3 separate regions of the Homo sapiens genome follow, and regions 1 and 2 are each reported to be linked to region 3. Evidence: microRNA targets listed by miRTarBase, many of them from high-throughput screens and not tested one by one. Region 3 holds a microRNA gene; each other region holds the end of a gene's coding sequence.

Region 1 (5,072 bases), not on the chromosome of region 3:
GCCAGGCCTCTCGTTTCCTTGTGGTTTATCTGCTGAAGAGGGCAGGTTGTGAGTCCCACGGGTCTCTACAATGTCAACTTTGCTCATTGCAGCCCTCTGGGGGCTTTGAACTCATGCCTCTGTTGGGCGTCCATCAGCCCATCCGATGCAGGCAGAAGCCATCTGACTGTGCCACCTGGCTGCAGCCCACCATAGCTCCCAGCTGCTTGCTCCAGGCGCTTCTCCCTGATCTCAGCCACTCCAAGGGCACTCACAGGCACCCCTCCCTTTCTCTGTCAGGGCTCACCCCTCGCAGGGCTGACCCTCTACCCTGTGTTCCCACAGCCCCGTGCGCCAACCTGTCACACACATCCTGTGGTTTTACACTTCTGTCACTGACAGGAGCCTGCTGGGGACAGGTGCTGGCTCCACTCCCTCCTCCAGCACCCTGTCTCAGAGTGTACTGAGGTGACGATGGTGATGGCGTGGTCTGTTCTCTGCCTGACAGTACATTAGGTGCCACAGACCTGCCCCACTGACCATGGAGGATGCCCTGGAGGAGGTGAACAAGGAGCTGTGAGCGCCAGCAGGTGGAGCTTGACGTGACGTCTTAACAAAAGGTATCCCGTCCTGTGTACTCAGTGCACACACACGCACACAAACATAGAGCTCATCAGTGTCCAAGTGTGACGTTCCGTGGTGGGGGCAGGTGGTACTGGGGTGATGGACACACACACACACAGTCAGCATCCAGGTGTGACATTCCATGGTGGGGCAGGTGGTGCTGCGGTGAGGGCCCCAGACTCCTCTGAGCCAAATCCCAGCTCAGTGACAGCTCTCCCAGCAGCATGCCCAGCTCTATGACACCACAGGCCAGTGGAAATAGAATTTCAGTGGAGCTGTCCCCACTCACAGCAGGACAGGGGCCACCAGCCTCTGCAGAGCAGCTCCACCCAGGCAGGTCCTGGCATCCCAGTGAGCCAGAGGGAGACAGGGTGGATGGGAGAAGCCCTGCTCGAGGGTAAGGACATGGGACCAGGTCAGCACGCTGGGGACGCCATGTGAGCCCCTGGACACGGCCTCTGACCCCAGGCTGCACAGCTCAAACCAGGACATGTGTCTCCTCACTCAGCCCGTGCACACTTCTGACTTACACATGTGCGGGAGAAAGGTCTTTAAAAAAAGGCTTTATTTGAAGGCAAAACAATGAAATCCACAAGAAATTACTAACAGCACGTGTTTACGTTTTATCCTGAATCATACATTTTAACAATTCACAGCTACAGGAAATCTAGAACAAAATCAAATATTCATCACGTTGGGTTGAAAAGTTGGAAGATTTTGCATCTTATTGAAAAGAATTTTTCAAAAATGTTTCTGTACAAATGAATGGAATTGCACCAGGCTGCCCATGGACACCAGGTGTGGCCGATTCCCAACGGTCACCCACCAGCTTCTGGCAGGAGCAGCTCCCCTCCTGGCCTCCCCTCCCTTCGGGGGTGTGAAATGAAATGATGGAGTGGAAGGCGCTGGCTGGGGTCGGGCTCCATGCTCTGGATGGGACTGGGCCGTCGCACACGCCAGCCGGTGCAGGGTTCTTCCAAGTGCAAAACTCAAGCAGGGGACGCGACGGGCACAGACTCCGAGGCAGCGCTCAACCTGAAGTGTCTTAGGCTGGTTTCCTGTTAGAATCTTGTTTCCCAGATAACAGCAAATGGCTACATTCCAGAAAAAAAATATCAACTTATACAACTAAAATAACTGAACTAAGGGCCAGTACGCCTTCGAAGAATTAGGTTTCAGAATCTCACTGGGCCTCCTCTCAGGTCAGTATTCTTCTTTCTAGACCTAAACCAAGGAGAGTAAAAATGAAAACCCTGCTTCACTTCGCAAGTCAAGTCAAAGTTTTGTGTTTCTGTTTTTCAATCCGCGGGCAGTCATGGCACTGGGCTTCGGCTTTGTCCCTACACAGCCGAGGGGAAGCCAGGTCAGGGCCGGTGGGTGCGGGGAGCTGGAGGAAGGAGCTGGGGTGCCGGCTCTGGCTCAGGCCAACCCTTCCTGCACATGCTCCTCCTGGAGCCTAGGAGGAGGCTTCAATCTGACTTAGGGCAGATGCACATCCATCCCTTCGTGGCTGAAGAATTTACTCGGGCGGAGGGTCTTGTGTTTTTTGCTTCGCTATAAAGGAAAACGAGCCTGGGGCCCTGGTGGCTGCAGCGCCTCCTGGTGTGGTTTGTGGGTGGCACCCGTGCCCTCCACGCCATGGAGCACGGCGTTCCCACTGGGCATGCGCTGGTCTTCCTTCTCTTCCTGTGGCTCTCCACAAGTGGAGACGGTGTAAGAACTGAGCTGTCACTGCAATCTTCCTCTGCCAGTCAGCCAGGAAGGTCCCACAGCCGGCACCGCTGGCCACCGGCGCGGCTCCCGGCATGGGCGCCTACTTACACTCGTCCCTGGCCTTCATGCGGGCGATGAAGGAGTAGCTCTTGTTCCTGCGGTAGTTCTCATAGGGGTCATCCAGAGCCACGCCCACGCCTTTATACTGGTCCCACTTATCCCGGACGTCCCCGCCCTTGATGGGGTCCTGGATCCCTTGCTCCTTCGCACCGAGGCCGCCTGAGCCGCTCCAGCCTGGAAACAGAGACGCAGTCACAACCACAACAAGGCGGAGGCAGATGGGGGTGCACGTGGGGGGCTGAATGTCCAGACAGGCAGTGTAGACATGGGAAATGGGTAGAGAGAACCCGCAGGCCGGCCCTGTCTAGAGGGTCTGGGTGGAGTCAGAACCGGCCTGACTCCATCCATCCCCACATGCACTGAGGAAGAGAAAGCGCTGGTGACTCCCGGGCCCAGCACGCGTGAGGACCCATCCCGCGCCCTCCCCATTCCCTCGCCTTACCCATCTTCACCAGCATCTGATGGCCTTTGTTCTCTTCTCCGAGCCTTGAGTCAGGGATGGGAGGCGCCGAATTAGAACCCAGACCAGCAGAGGAACTAAAATCGAGACAGGTTATTCTTTTTAAGAAGTAACTGAGACATTTATTGGAATGACAGTGATGAGGACCTCACAGCCGCAGCTTGCGTGCATGCTCACTGTCACCAGGTGACACCGTATGCAGATTTTGCGTCTCTACCCGTTTATCCTGTCTCAGCTAGATAAGGGGGCTCCAGACGCTGGCCCCCACCCCACGCTCAGCATTGAGAGCAGGACACCTCCAACCCAGATGGTGGTTAGAAAGCAGACCCCAGTTACTGCCTCAGGCTTCGCCAAGTGGCTACTGTGGTGAAGGGTGAGGGGTGCCACTGTCCCCGGGCTAATGCTGGCGGCCTCCTAACACAGTCTCCTAACCACCAATGTTTCCACATTCACAGCAAAGCACCGCAGCTTCCCAGAGTTACCAGCGCAGCACTTAAGACAGGATCTTACGGCGGGGTGGGGCTCCTGGACCGTGACCGGCGTCTTCTTCCTGGGGAGTACGACTTGGACCGGGACCGCGACTGGGACCGGGAGCGGCTTCTGGAGGAGCGCGACCTGCTCCGACTTCTGCAGGGAAGGGTGCCCAAGGGTCAGCAGCAGCCAGGCGTCGTGGGGAGGCCACAGGAAGAGGCCTCAGGCACTGCCCTGAGGCAGCCTCTGCCTACCTAGATCTGGAGCGGGAGTAGGAACGGGAGCAGGAGCGCGACCTTGACCTTGAGTACGAGCCTGAAGACTTGGAGGATCTTGAGTTGGAGCGGGAGGAAGAACGCCCTCGACTCTTGGATCTGCTCCGAGACCTCGAGGGTCCGCTGTGGGGAGAGGCCTGATGATCAGGTGCCCCAGTGGATGGGCTGCACCCAGCCCACCCTGGCCCTCAGGTTCCTAGACCACCCCAGATGCAGGGGCTCTGGCTGTGGATGTGGCGCCATAGCCACAGCAACGGTACCAAGTTCCTAAATAGTGTGGCCGAGCCTGCTGCTGTGTGAATTCAGGCCTTGTGGAAAACACCGCCCCATAGGCACAGGCTGTGTGAGGGTGGACGTGATGAGTGTATCTGGGGTCTGCTCCCACCCATCACAAGCTGTGGACCCTGGCCCCCCGGCCACTGCAGACATCTGCGCTTTTACCTGTTCCTCTTCTCCTGGCCTTTCCTCCGCCGGGCCCGCATTTTTGCTCGGAAGAACTCATAGAGGCCGTTCTGCTCCCAGCCTTCACTGTAAGACACGGCATTCCGTGTGTGACCACGTGACACCCACCCACAAGGAAGTCGTGAAAAAGTCATCAGGAGTTAATCCACAGAACCTTGGAGAGTACATGGCCCTGTGGCTGTGGGCTCCGAGCATGGGCGCAGTAGAGCTTGGTTCAGTGTTCCCACAGGGCTGTCCTCCTGCAGCCCAGTGGCTCCTCTGGTGCCCACGCCCTTGCCACCCTGCTGTTCCGCTGAGGTGGTGGGGACCCATGGTCTGTGGAACTGGGAAACAGGAACACTGACTCATGGGTGGACAGGCCTGCAGCCCAGCACAGGAAGGAGGGGTGACCACTGGGAAGGGTGGGCTGAGGGCCCTGTGGCAGCCGGCTGCTTGAGACGTGCCGCCGTGCCACACCTTCCCTAACTTCTTCTGATGTGTCTCCATTAAAACGCCCTTCATTGAGGGCCACGTGTGTGCTGTGCCTGTGACACACACTTGTCACTCAGGCGGGGGGAGGGCAGTTTCTCCTGAGGGACAGCCACATTTTCTAGCCTGGACAGAAGGTGTGGTTGCAGGGAGCCGGGAGAGGGGACAGAGGCCTCCCGCCCACCCCACTGACCTGGGCCCCTTACCTGTTCCTGGGCCTGTCGTGGGACGGGGGGCTGTAGAAGGCCTCCACTGCAGCCAGCAGCCTCTCGCTGGGCGGCATGGGGGGTGGGAGGCGGATGTCTTTAGGGTCCAAAGGCTTGTACTCGTGATCTTCCAGCTGCAGCAGAGAACCCCAGCTGTCACCATGCCTGGGCAGAGCCCTCTCAGGCCCACCCAGGGTCTGCAAGGAGTGGGGTCAGGGCAGGGCCCAGGTTCAGTGTCAAGGGTACCCTGGGCACCAGAGCTCCTCATGCTTCCCTCTTGGGGATCCCACTCTC
Region 2 (5,072 bases), not on the chromosome of region 3:
GGCCTTTTGGCTAAGATCAAGTGTAGAAGTCTCTAACAAGGAAGACAGAAATTAAAGCAAACAGATAAAAGCAACTTGGAGAAACAGACAACACAAGGAGAAGAAAACTATAAAGTTGAGAAAAAAACTTCCTAGAAAGAAGAGCCAAAGACACAGATAGAAAATTGGAGAAAATATTTTAAAAAGCAGAAGTCCAGAAAGTCTAGTATTTAAATAATAGAATTTTTAGAAAGGGAGAACAGAGAAAGTAAGTGCAAGAAGTTCACTAATAATTCAAGAAAATTTCCGAGAACTGAAGAAAATGAGTCATAAGATTTTAAAAGCATACTGTATGTCCACTGTGTCCACCAAAATGAATTAAAATAGACCCCCACCTGGCTGGGAGCAGTGGCTCACGCCTGTAATCCCAGCACCTTGGGAGGCCGAGGCAGGCAGATCACCTGAGGTCAGGAGTTTGAGACCAGCCTGGTCAACATGGTGAAACCCTGTTTCTACTAAAAATACAAAACTTAGCCAGGCGTGGTGGTGGGCACCTGTAATCCCAGCTACCTGAGAGGCTGAGGCAGAAGGATTACTTGAACCTGAGAGACGGAGGTTGCAGTGAGCCAAGATCGCACCACTGCCCTCCAGCCTGGGCAACAGAGTGAGAATCCGTCTCAAAAAATAAATAAATAAATAATAATAAAAAAAATAATAAATAAATAAATAAATAAAATAAAATAGACCCACACCAAGGGAGATCACTATGGAATTCCAGAACACAGAAGACAAACTTGCTACAAGCTTCCAGAGAGGGAGAAAGATTACATATAGAGGATAACAGCATCTTTGGATTGTTCAACAACAAAACTGGAAGCAAGAAGTTAATAAGCCTTTAAATTTCTGCAGAAAAAAATATCTACAACCTAGAATCCTGTATTTACCAAACTATCAACTGAGAAGTAGAATTAAATATTATTTCAGACAAGCAAATTACTAAAATATTTATCTCCCATGTACCTTTCCTTAAGAAATACTGGAGGATGTCACTCCAGCAAAATGAGATTTAAAAAAATAAATAAATAAAAGACTAGGGTGTGGGATCTAGGAATATAGGAAGATCATCTAAGAAAGGAGAGAGAACAAAGTGAAATACTAGAAATGACTGCTGTGTACCAGATCTGAGTACTGTGATCCATGACAGCTGTCAGTACCAAGATTCCCACTGCTATTATACCAACAGGCCACCTAAGTCAGTTTGGTTCAGGCTCTTTTCTGTACTTTCTGATTTTGACCAAGCCTAATGAAGTTTCTGTTCTCCCCGCCAAGCCCTGGTGAATTAATCAGCTGACACTTGTTTTAAACGCCACCTCTCACCCCAAAGGGTTAAGACACTTAATTCACTAAGTGTCTGTGATCTACTCCAGAGGACTGGAGGGAAGCCATGGTGAGCTTTGACACAGGAAACAGACAGCAAACTGATCCTGTAGACCATATTTCTGCCAGACACCCGGGACTGTGCTTACCTGACAAGACCTACCCCAACTGGCAAGCCCTGTTTTCCAGGACTCACTCATAACCTTGGCCACTGTACTTCTAAGAGGCTTTCATAAATGATCGGAGACGCTAAAGCCAAACTATGCCCCAGAAGCTATTTAGTTTATCTTCTCCTAAAAGTCTTAATCTAATAGTGACAACATCACCCTTTCCTTCTACAGCTAGGCTTGGGTTTATTACTCAGCTTTTTAAAACTAAACAATCTATTCAGGGATAGATACATAGCTGGCAAAACTCTTGAAGATTAACACAGAAATTAAAATAATGGCTATTTGAAACGATAAGGAAAGAAAATGAAGTCTAACTGGAGAGGGGCAAATAGAGGTTTTAAGATACCAGAGGTTCTATTTTTTTTTTTTTTTTTTTGAGACGGAGTCTCACTCTTGTTGCCCAAGCTGGAGTGCAATGGTGTGACCTGGACTCACTGCAACCTCTGCCTCTTGAGTTCAAGAGATTCTCTTGCCTCAGCCTCCCGAATAGCTGGGATTATAGGCACGAGCCACCATGCCCAGCTAATTTTTGTTTTGTAGTTTTAGTAGAAATGGGGTTTCACCATGTTAGCCAGGCTGGTCTCGAACTCCTGACCTACAGTGATCTGCCCGCCTCGGCCTCCCAAAGTGCTGAGCTTACAGGCATGAGCCACCATGCCTGGCCTCTATTTTTAACCTTGGTGGTAGACACACAGGTCATTATTATTTTTATTCTTCATACTTTTTATAAAGTCATGCTTTTTATAAACTCTTCTGTATGACTGATTAAACACACACACAATTACAGCACAGCCTTATAAGGTAGGAGTTCCCTCCTTTTACAAAAAAAGCAACATTTTTATTGATATGCCCATCTCAGGACTTCCCCGCATCCCCGCAAAAAGCCTTGATTACAATTCACTGCCATCTGAATATTATTTGTGCATTGGTCCATCACTTTGCAGTACAATGTGAAGGTTCAGGAGACTGAAGTGAAGTTCAAGGGCAAAGAGAGCCTGTCATTTCTAGTCCTCTCCTCTTATCCAGGGAAATTTTGTTAGTTTTACAAAACAATTTACTATCCACTTGATCACCATCTATTTCTGGTGACATTTATTTGAGAATATCATGTTTAAGTTTCTAAAAATTGTGTTGAAATTTTAACAAATTAAAGTACAGCATAAAGGTAAGGACGAAAAAAACCCACCTGAAAGCACAGAACGTACGATCTAGATCTATTTAGTTGATCCTACATCACATCCCTTAATGGACATGGCTGAAAATATGCCAGTTCCAGCTTTGGGCTTCTGAATGCAGCCCAAGGCAAGACATACAAACCACACAGATCCTGGTGCTCTGTTGGGGAACAGGTAACTTTCATCCTCTACCCTCTTTTGGTCAGTGGTGCGATCGTTGCCCCATCAACAGGTACTTCCTAAAATGGTCAGTCATAAAAGATGTGTCTGTGGATCATCTACATCAGTGTTTCCCGATCTCTTTCCCATCATGGCACTCACAAAGAGATGCCACTTGTGTGACATAGTGACTGCTGCTCCTGCCAGGTCTCCCTAAAGAGAACCAACATCTCAACATGTCAATAACCTCTCCATTACTGGCACATAAGGCTTCTCAGTTGGGAAGGCTTGGCATGCATAATACAATAGCAGAAAGAGGAATCTTCTACTGAAAGGCACTGGAAGAGGGATTCTTGAGGACAAGATGGGCTGAACGTCAAGGATGCCATTGACTGTCAATAAAATGGTTGTTTCTCCTCCACTTTCTTCTTCTAAACCATCCTCCCTCCCCACTGTTGAAGATGTAAAATCAAATGGAAACATCTGATGGCTACTTGTCACAAAACCTTTCAAACTCACATCCAACAAAACAGAAAAACAAAAACAAGGACAACCCAAGTGTCACCATCAAGTTTTCTGTTTTATTTAAGATTTTAGTTTTAATTCTGAAGAAAGAGGTACATTTCCTTGTTTTTAGTTTTAGCGTCAGGTTATAACCAGGTTTCTGTTTTCTTTTCTCCTGTCTTTTCAATACTGCACAAACGTCCAGAAACTACAGGGTTAAGTAAAAGCTGCAGGCAAGGAGGTCAGAGATTTGCTCCCGATGGTGATCAGATGGCCCCAGAGCAGTGCTATCTCAGAGTGCCCTCGTCAGGTGAATTTATGGTAAAACAAAAAAGATTCCGACAGAGGAGAAGGACTGAAGAAATGACTTACATTTCAGCTCTTATATTATTAATAGGTATTAAATCTGTGAATACTTTTTTCTTTAAAACATTTCAATTTACTTTAAATCTAAAGCCAAAAAATTTTTCTCCTTTAAAAAAATTACTTCTCACCTCCTTATGAACTCTTTAGCAATCGGCCAGTTACTACTACAGATGAATTTGTCTTTCCATCAACTTCCAATACATTCTTTTGCTTAATGACACAATCAAGTCCTTGCCATCAACTTGCCAAAAGAATTAAAAATTAATTTAAATTAAAAGCATTTTCCCTGCAATAATGATAAGCTGAATACAAGATGGATGCTAGGACCACTGCTTTCCCCCATGCATTTAGCAATCTCACGTAAATGAACCTGGTTTTCAAACTTCTGCAGTTGATAATGCATTTACTTGAGCTTTCCTATAGATTAATCGTCATTTTCTGCTAAGCAGATTATGTCATTATTATGCGCAACAGACAAACAATAATTTTCTAAGTATTGAGACTGCCCTTTGATTTTTTTTTCTCTCCTTAAAAAGGCATTTTTAGAAACATTCAACAGTGTCACTCAAATGCTGGATCAACAAAAATTTTTACAATTAATAAAGAGATGGTAATGACCCTGTGATCGCATTGCATCTGGGGTTAGGGAGAAAAAAAATTGATCAGGTACTGGATTCTTCAGAACATAAGAGATGAGAAGGGAGCTGTGGGTGGTGGGCTGAGAGGGAGAAAACAGAGTGGGACAAATCCTGCATTTTCTAATGGTTGCTCCTCTTTGCCTAATGGCGGTCCAGTGTTGAACTCTGTAGTAAATCTGTGGGGGTTTTGCTGGGGGGTCTGAAGGCTGTCTGAAAGCCTGGGGGTGGGGAGTGGAAGCTGGAAGGGTTTGAAGGAGGAGGGTAGGGATTCCAACTGGCTCTGTGCAGCGGGATCTGTGTGCTGAAGGGGGCGCTGTGGTGGGTCTGTGATGGAGCAGCGCTGGGGCCGTCCATCTCTGTGAGGGCCTGAAGGGATTTTAGCCAGTGTGGAGGATTGTCATCTTGAAGAGAGTCTAAACTGTTTCCTGAAGACGCTGGAATACCTAAGGAGAGAAAAGAAAAAAGAGGGAAAATGGTGAGTTTGTGTGGAAAGAATAAGGTCGTCAAACAAATTTAGAAAGCAAAACCAAAAGGAAAGACAGAAGAGATTACAATTTTAAACTCCTTCCAAATAAGACCTTTTAAACCAATCCTCCCCCAACAACAAAGAACTTATTGGCACACAAACCCATGCCTCCTCTTGAACTAGACTTAGTCCCCCACTGTCACAGAGGCAGAGCTGCAAAACACCATTCCCCAGAACT
Region 3 (5,073 bases):
TACATTATGTCTCCTCTAACTACTCATATGGTTCTAGGCAAATAGGTGCTCAAGACATAATGACTGGATTCAACAGCATCTATTTACACCTCTGGGATCAACACGTTTTTTGCAGGAGTCTCTAGGCACCTGTTTTTTGCAGGAGTCCCTAGGCTTTATATTAACACTGGCCTGTTTGCATCCAGATCCATTCTCCACTCTTCTCCTGAAAATTACATTTGTTAGATTTCCTTGCTTTCTCACTTCTTTTGTCCAATGGGAGACATGTACAGGAGATTGGTGGCTAGGAGGAAGGGAGAACCCAGGGTATTTCTCCCACCACCTGTATCAGAGAGGTGTTTTCTGGTGGTAGCTGTATTCCTCCATGGCTCCAGCTCCTCTTGAACAACTCTTCCATTCATGGCACCTGCTTCCAATAGGCTGTCCAACCCATGATTTTAGCTTCTGCATGGCTTCATCTGTTATCCGTCCATCCCTACGAGTGGTAGCAGCTTTCTGTGTTTGTTAAATGCTAGGTTGCTGCATCCTCATCCTCTGTCTGGCTTGTTAGCTCTGTAAGTGTCATGCATTAAATGCTCGCAGTTTAAAAGACCTAGGGTGGTTTTTATTTTCCTGATTGGACCATGACCGGCACAGATACTTTCCACAATTCCAGGGCTACTCACATCACATAAATTGGTTTATATCCTTCAGAGCACATATTACAATCTCTAAATATTTTTGTTTGTTTACTTATTTATTGTCTATCTCTCTTCTGTAAGTAGATTGTAAGGTCCATGAGGAACTTTGTCTTGTATCCTGAGCATCTGTCACAATGCCTGGCACACAGGGGCTAAATGATAATGTTGAATGAATGCATCCATCAAAAAATTCCAAGTTTTTATTGGGTATTTACTATGTGCCAGTCACTGTTGTAGAAGATGCAGAAATTAGTAATTCATTGCCACTGCTTCAAAAACACATAATGCCATTTAAGTGAAAGGGGACAGTAAAATGTTCATATGACCATTGTGTTAGTTCGCTAGGGCTGTGCCATAACAAAATACCACAGACTCTGTGGCTTAAACAACAGAAATTGAGTTTCTTATAATCCTGGAGGCCAGAAGTCTGAGAACAAGGTATCAGTGGGGTTGGGTCTTCTGAGGCCTCTCTCCTTGGCTTGCTGTTTAGATGACTGTCTTCTCCGAGTCATCAGATTCTGAGGTACTGGAAGGACTTCAACATATAAATTTTGGGGGAAAACAATTCAGCCCGTAACATCCAGGAAATAAAAAGATCATTTTTAATCGAGACAGTGAAATCGTAGTGCTATAGGAATCAAATGAAAGATGACAAAATCAGGGCCTGGAGGTATTCCTGGAAAGCTTTCTAAAGGTGGTGTGCCTGGTGCCAGATCTTGAACAGTCATGACAGTTTGAATGGGCTGGTTGGCAGGGGAGGTGCATCCAAGATACTGAGCATGAAAGAAGGCCCAGAGATGGGAAAGTGAGAGAACATTGTGGAATCACTGATGCCTGGGTTACCAGACTTGGGAGGGAAGTTGAAAGGTCATCCAGGGCAACCTCCCATTTGATTCAGGAATCCCTTGCCAAAGGGTCATTCAGCTTCTGCTTGTACACCTCCCATGATGGGGTGCTCATTAAGGTACTGCTTCTATCTTTGCCCAGCTCTGCATGGACAAAACAACAGGTTGGATGAAGTGCAGAAGTTGTGCTAAAAAGAAGAGGACAAATAAAGTACGTGTAACAGGCCAGTGATGTCTTCATGTCAATTATCTCCAGGAACTTCTTTCTAATATCATACTGTAACTCCTTTTACTTTGGTTGCAACCTCTGTTTTTGCAATTCTGTCTTTGCCTGACCTGCTCTTCTAGTCAGGAGCCTTGGATTCTTGTCTTGTTTGGCTGTGCTACTTTAAGCAGAAGTCTTTCAATCTCTGGGCTTCAGTGTTCAAGTCTGTAATGGTGGGCAATTAAGAATCCTTGTTGTGTCCATCTCATAGAGTTACTGTGAGGATTATAAGGGATAATAACAGATGTTAGTGTGACTGACAAAGTCAATTTTTAGCCTAAGCAAAGGTACCAGCCTGTGTTGTGTTCCCCAGAGTTGGGGGAATCATAAAGAGGTGGGTGGTTTCTCCGTTTGCCTGTTTCGCTGATGTGCATTCAACTCATTCTCAGCAAAATAAGCAAATGGAAAATTCGTCCATCAACAAGCTACCTTTCATGTTCCTAAGGGCATGAAGGAGAAGCCTGGAGTGGTGTGTGTGAGATAGAAAGGGAGAGATAGCCGAAAGAGGCTTGGAAAGCCGCAGAGGGTAAAGTCGAGGATTTATCTTTTTTTTTTCTTTAATGTGACCTTATGCCCCTTCCCTCTTCCAAACCTCCATTTATTTATCTATAACTTGGAGATACTAATGGCTGCCTCTACAGGGTTGTTCTGAGAAGTGAAAGTAATGCAGATGAAAGCTCTCAGATAGTACACAAAGAGAGAAGACCCTAGGGGAGTATGCAGAGGGAGGGTGGGGGAGGGAGGCATGAGAGTGCTGGCTTGGCTCCACTGGGGCAGGATCTTATTATTCTGGAGATTGGCACAACACCTCTGGTAACTTTGGAAAGGACTTTCCGCTGACTCGACACAATTGGGAAGCCCCACAATAAACAGCATCTAACTCCAGCGCAGCGGGAGGCAGGCAGAGGTAGCAGCTGCCTTCTCCTGGGCGGGCGGAGGCTATTCGCCCCCATCCTCTCCCTGCACCCCACCCCCACAGTTCTCAAGCCTTGGTGGGGGACAAAAGCAGCCCATTAGGACCCCCCCACACTCGCACCTCTCCCTGCCAAGACCTCTAGGAGCAGCAGGGCGGAGAGACAGAGCCTGCCGGTTGGCATGGAACAAACTGACTGAAGGCGAGGTCCGGGGCGGAGGGGATTGGGTTGTAGGGCTGTGGAGGAGGGGCGGCGGAGGGGGCGCTGGGGCTCTCGCTTGCTTCAGCCCAGCCCTTCTAGTCAGCCCGCGACAACTCGCGCCAGCTACGGGGCCTCAGAGAAGCCGGACTTCGCAAGCACCATGCAGTGGATAAGGGGCGGATCGGGAATGGTGAGTGCATGTAACCTTGGCTTCCCTTGCTTGAGCCTCTCAGTCCCCCAGCCCCACCTCCAGTTCCTCCAACGAGCCACAAGGCAGTGAGCACCCTGGCCTCTGCCCACCGCCCTAGCCGCCGTCCTTGAGACACCAGTGAGCTTGCTGTGGCCATTTTAGGAGTCCCTGCTAGCCTGCCTGCCCAGGAAACCCCCCTACCATCCCCCTCCACTTTTCTATCTCCCTCTGAGATTAAGGTGGAATAGGGGTGGGGGCCAGATTATGTGCCCAGGAACATCCCAGGGGTCACTTGGGAGGCCAGAGAGGGAAGGGGGATGGCAGAGGGCTTCTCTGGAAGCAGTGAAGCTCGCAGGAGGCTGACAAGCTGGCACGGGGTTGTGGGGGGAGGGGACGGTCACAAAGCCTGGAATTGTGGAGGGGGCCTTATGGGAGAGCTGCATGACTCCCCCCTGCCCCCAACTAGATTTTCTGCAACTCCTTTCCCTGGTCAGCCCCAGAGCATGAGGGCCAGAGAGCCACTCTCTCTCTCTCAGGAAGCTGCCTGAGGGAGCCCTAAAGCCCTTCCTTGTCCGGGCTGGGGTCACCCTGTCCACACTTGGGGCTTTGTCAAGGAGAGACAGCTGCAGAAACCCACATTCTGGAAATGGGCTTGGGCCACAGTCAGTTAACAGAGCTCTTCTCTCCCTCCCAAGGAGTGTGTGCTTGTGTGTGTGTTTAGTATAATCCTCCAACAGTTCATTTTATGCCATGGTGTTCCCTTCTCCACCTGGAGACCTTGGAATGACTTCCTTTTGCAGAGAGGAAGTGGTGGCTGCATTTTGATGCCTCTCTGACTTAGCCAGGAGCAGCTTAAGCCTGGTTAGGGCCTCTGGGGAGTGGGAGGCCCCCATGACTTTGTCCTCAGCTGGGAGGCATAAGCAAAAGGGCCTTAGAAGGCAGTTAGGTTGGGTCAGCAGGCACTGATGGCAATAGCCCACACTTCTACGCTGCCACCCATAACCCGCAGATGAAGGAAAGTAGCCTGAAGTGGTTGGGCAAAAACTGATATTTAACTCCATTTTTGCTTTCATTGTGGAGGGGAAGAGGGAATCTGGTGTGGGCTAGGACTATATTCAGAGGGGCTGTCCTCTTCCCTTCCTCAGAGTTTTGTTAGATCTCTGTTTCAGTGGTTCTTAAGGGCATCCGGTTCATATGCCTATGTGCTGGGGCTTCAAAAGACCCTTCTTCCCAGACCTCCCTACTTCCCTGAGGTCCCATTAAAGCTGCATCAAATGTTTGTAGAACCAGAAAAGATTAGAGCAGGTAAAGACCTTAGAGTCCTTGCTGTCCAGCCAGGAAAGCTGGGATCCAGAGAGTGGGAGAGACTTGCCCAGGACCACAAACTCCTTGGAGGCAAAGCTGAGTCTAGCACTTGAGTCTCCTGACTGCCACAGTCCTTCCCCACTGCTCCACCAATCATTTGCTCAAATGGTGCTGAGAGGGGAAGAAAGGAACATAGTCATGATCTTGGGAAAGGACTTTCTTCAGGATGATCTAGTGCCATTAAATTTACCTGAAAGCCGGGCGCGGCCGCCCACGCCTGTAATCCCAGCACTTTGGGAGGCCGAGGCGGGTGGATCATCTGAGGTCGGGAGCTCAAGAACAGCCTGACCAACGTGGAGAAACCCCGTCTCTACTAAAAAGACAAAATTAGCTGGACGTAGTGGCACATGCCTGAGGCTGAGGCAGGAGAATCACTCGAACCCAGGAGGGGGAGGTTGCGGTGAGCCGAGATTGTGCCGTTGCAGTCCAGCCTGAGCAACAAGAGCGAAACTCCATCTCAAAAAAAAAAAAAAAAAATTACCCGAAAAAAATCCATGCCAGTCCTGGCATTTCTGGCAACTGGGAACTGGGTCAGGGTGAGACTTACTTCCTCTCCCAAATATATTGAAGTATAGGGGCCCAGAGCCACTCATTGACAACAGGTTAAATTAAT

The links. Region 3 holds the annotated microRNA hsa-miR-1468-3p (AGCAAAAUAAGCAAAUGGAAAA, at 2,178-2,199, shown strand). A microRNA usually pairs through its seed, bases 2 to 8, with sites in the 3' UTR of a target mRNA and lowers its output. Matches are read on the target gene's strand: a 7mer-m8 pairs with bases 2 to 8, a 7mer-A1 pairs with bases 2 to 7 and ends in A, and an 8mer does both.
Region 1: the mRNA of C19orf44 is a reported target of hsa-miR-1468-3p. The part of its 3' UTR that is shown has no 7-base or 8-base seed match.
Region 2: miRTarBase lists CNOT4 as a target of hsa-miR-1468-3p. The part of its 3' UTR that is shown has no 7-base or 8-base seed match.

What each region holds. Positions count from the first base shown.
Region 1 is chr19:16,516,743-16,521,814 of GRCh38, forward strand. It overlaps C19orf44 (chromosome 19 open reading frame 44), which reads left to right. Exons shown (of 9, transcript NM_032207.4): 8 at 488-599; 9 at 3,352-4,610. The coding sequence ends at 559. CHERP (calcium homeostasis endoplasmic reticulum protein) reads right to left here. Exons shown (of 17, transcript NM_006387.6): 12 at 4,779-4,912; 13 at 4,084-4,170; 14 at 3,622-3,765; 15 at 3,407-3,523; 16 at 2,879-2,973; 17 at 1,152-2,610. The coding sequence ends at 2,417. Among named protein-coding and RNA genes, the nearest start is that of C19orf44, 23 kb to the left of the region's middle.
Region 2 is chr7:135,358,376-135,363,447 of GRCh38, forward strand. CNOT4 (CCR4-NOT transcription complex subunit 4) reads right to left here. Exons shown (of 12, transcript NM_001190850.2): 12 at 3,420-4,811. The coding sequence ends at 4,510. Among named protein-coding and RNA genes, the nearest start is that of STRA8, 130 kb to the left of the region's middle.
Region 3 is chrX:63,783,138-63,788,210 of GRCh38, reverse strand. MIR1468 (microRNA 1468) reads left to right here and starts at 2,124; the gene lies at 2,124-2,209. ARHGEF9 (Cdc42 guanine nucleotide exchange factor 9) reads left to right here and starts at 2,997. Exons shown (of 10, transcript NM_001353921.2): 1 at 2,997-3,095. The coding sequence starts at 3,066.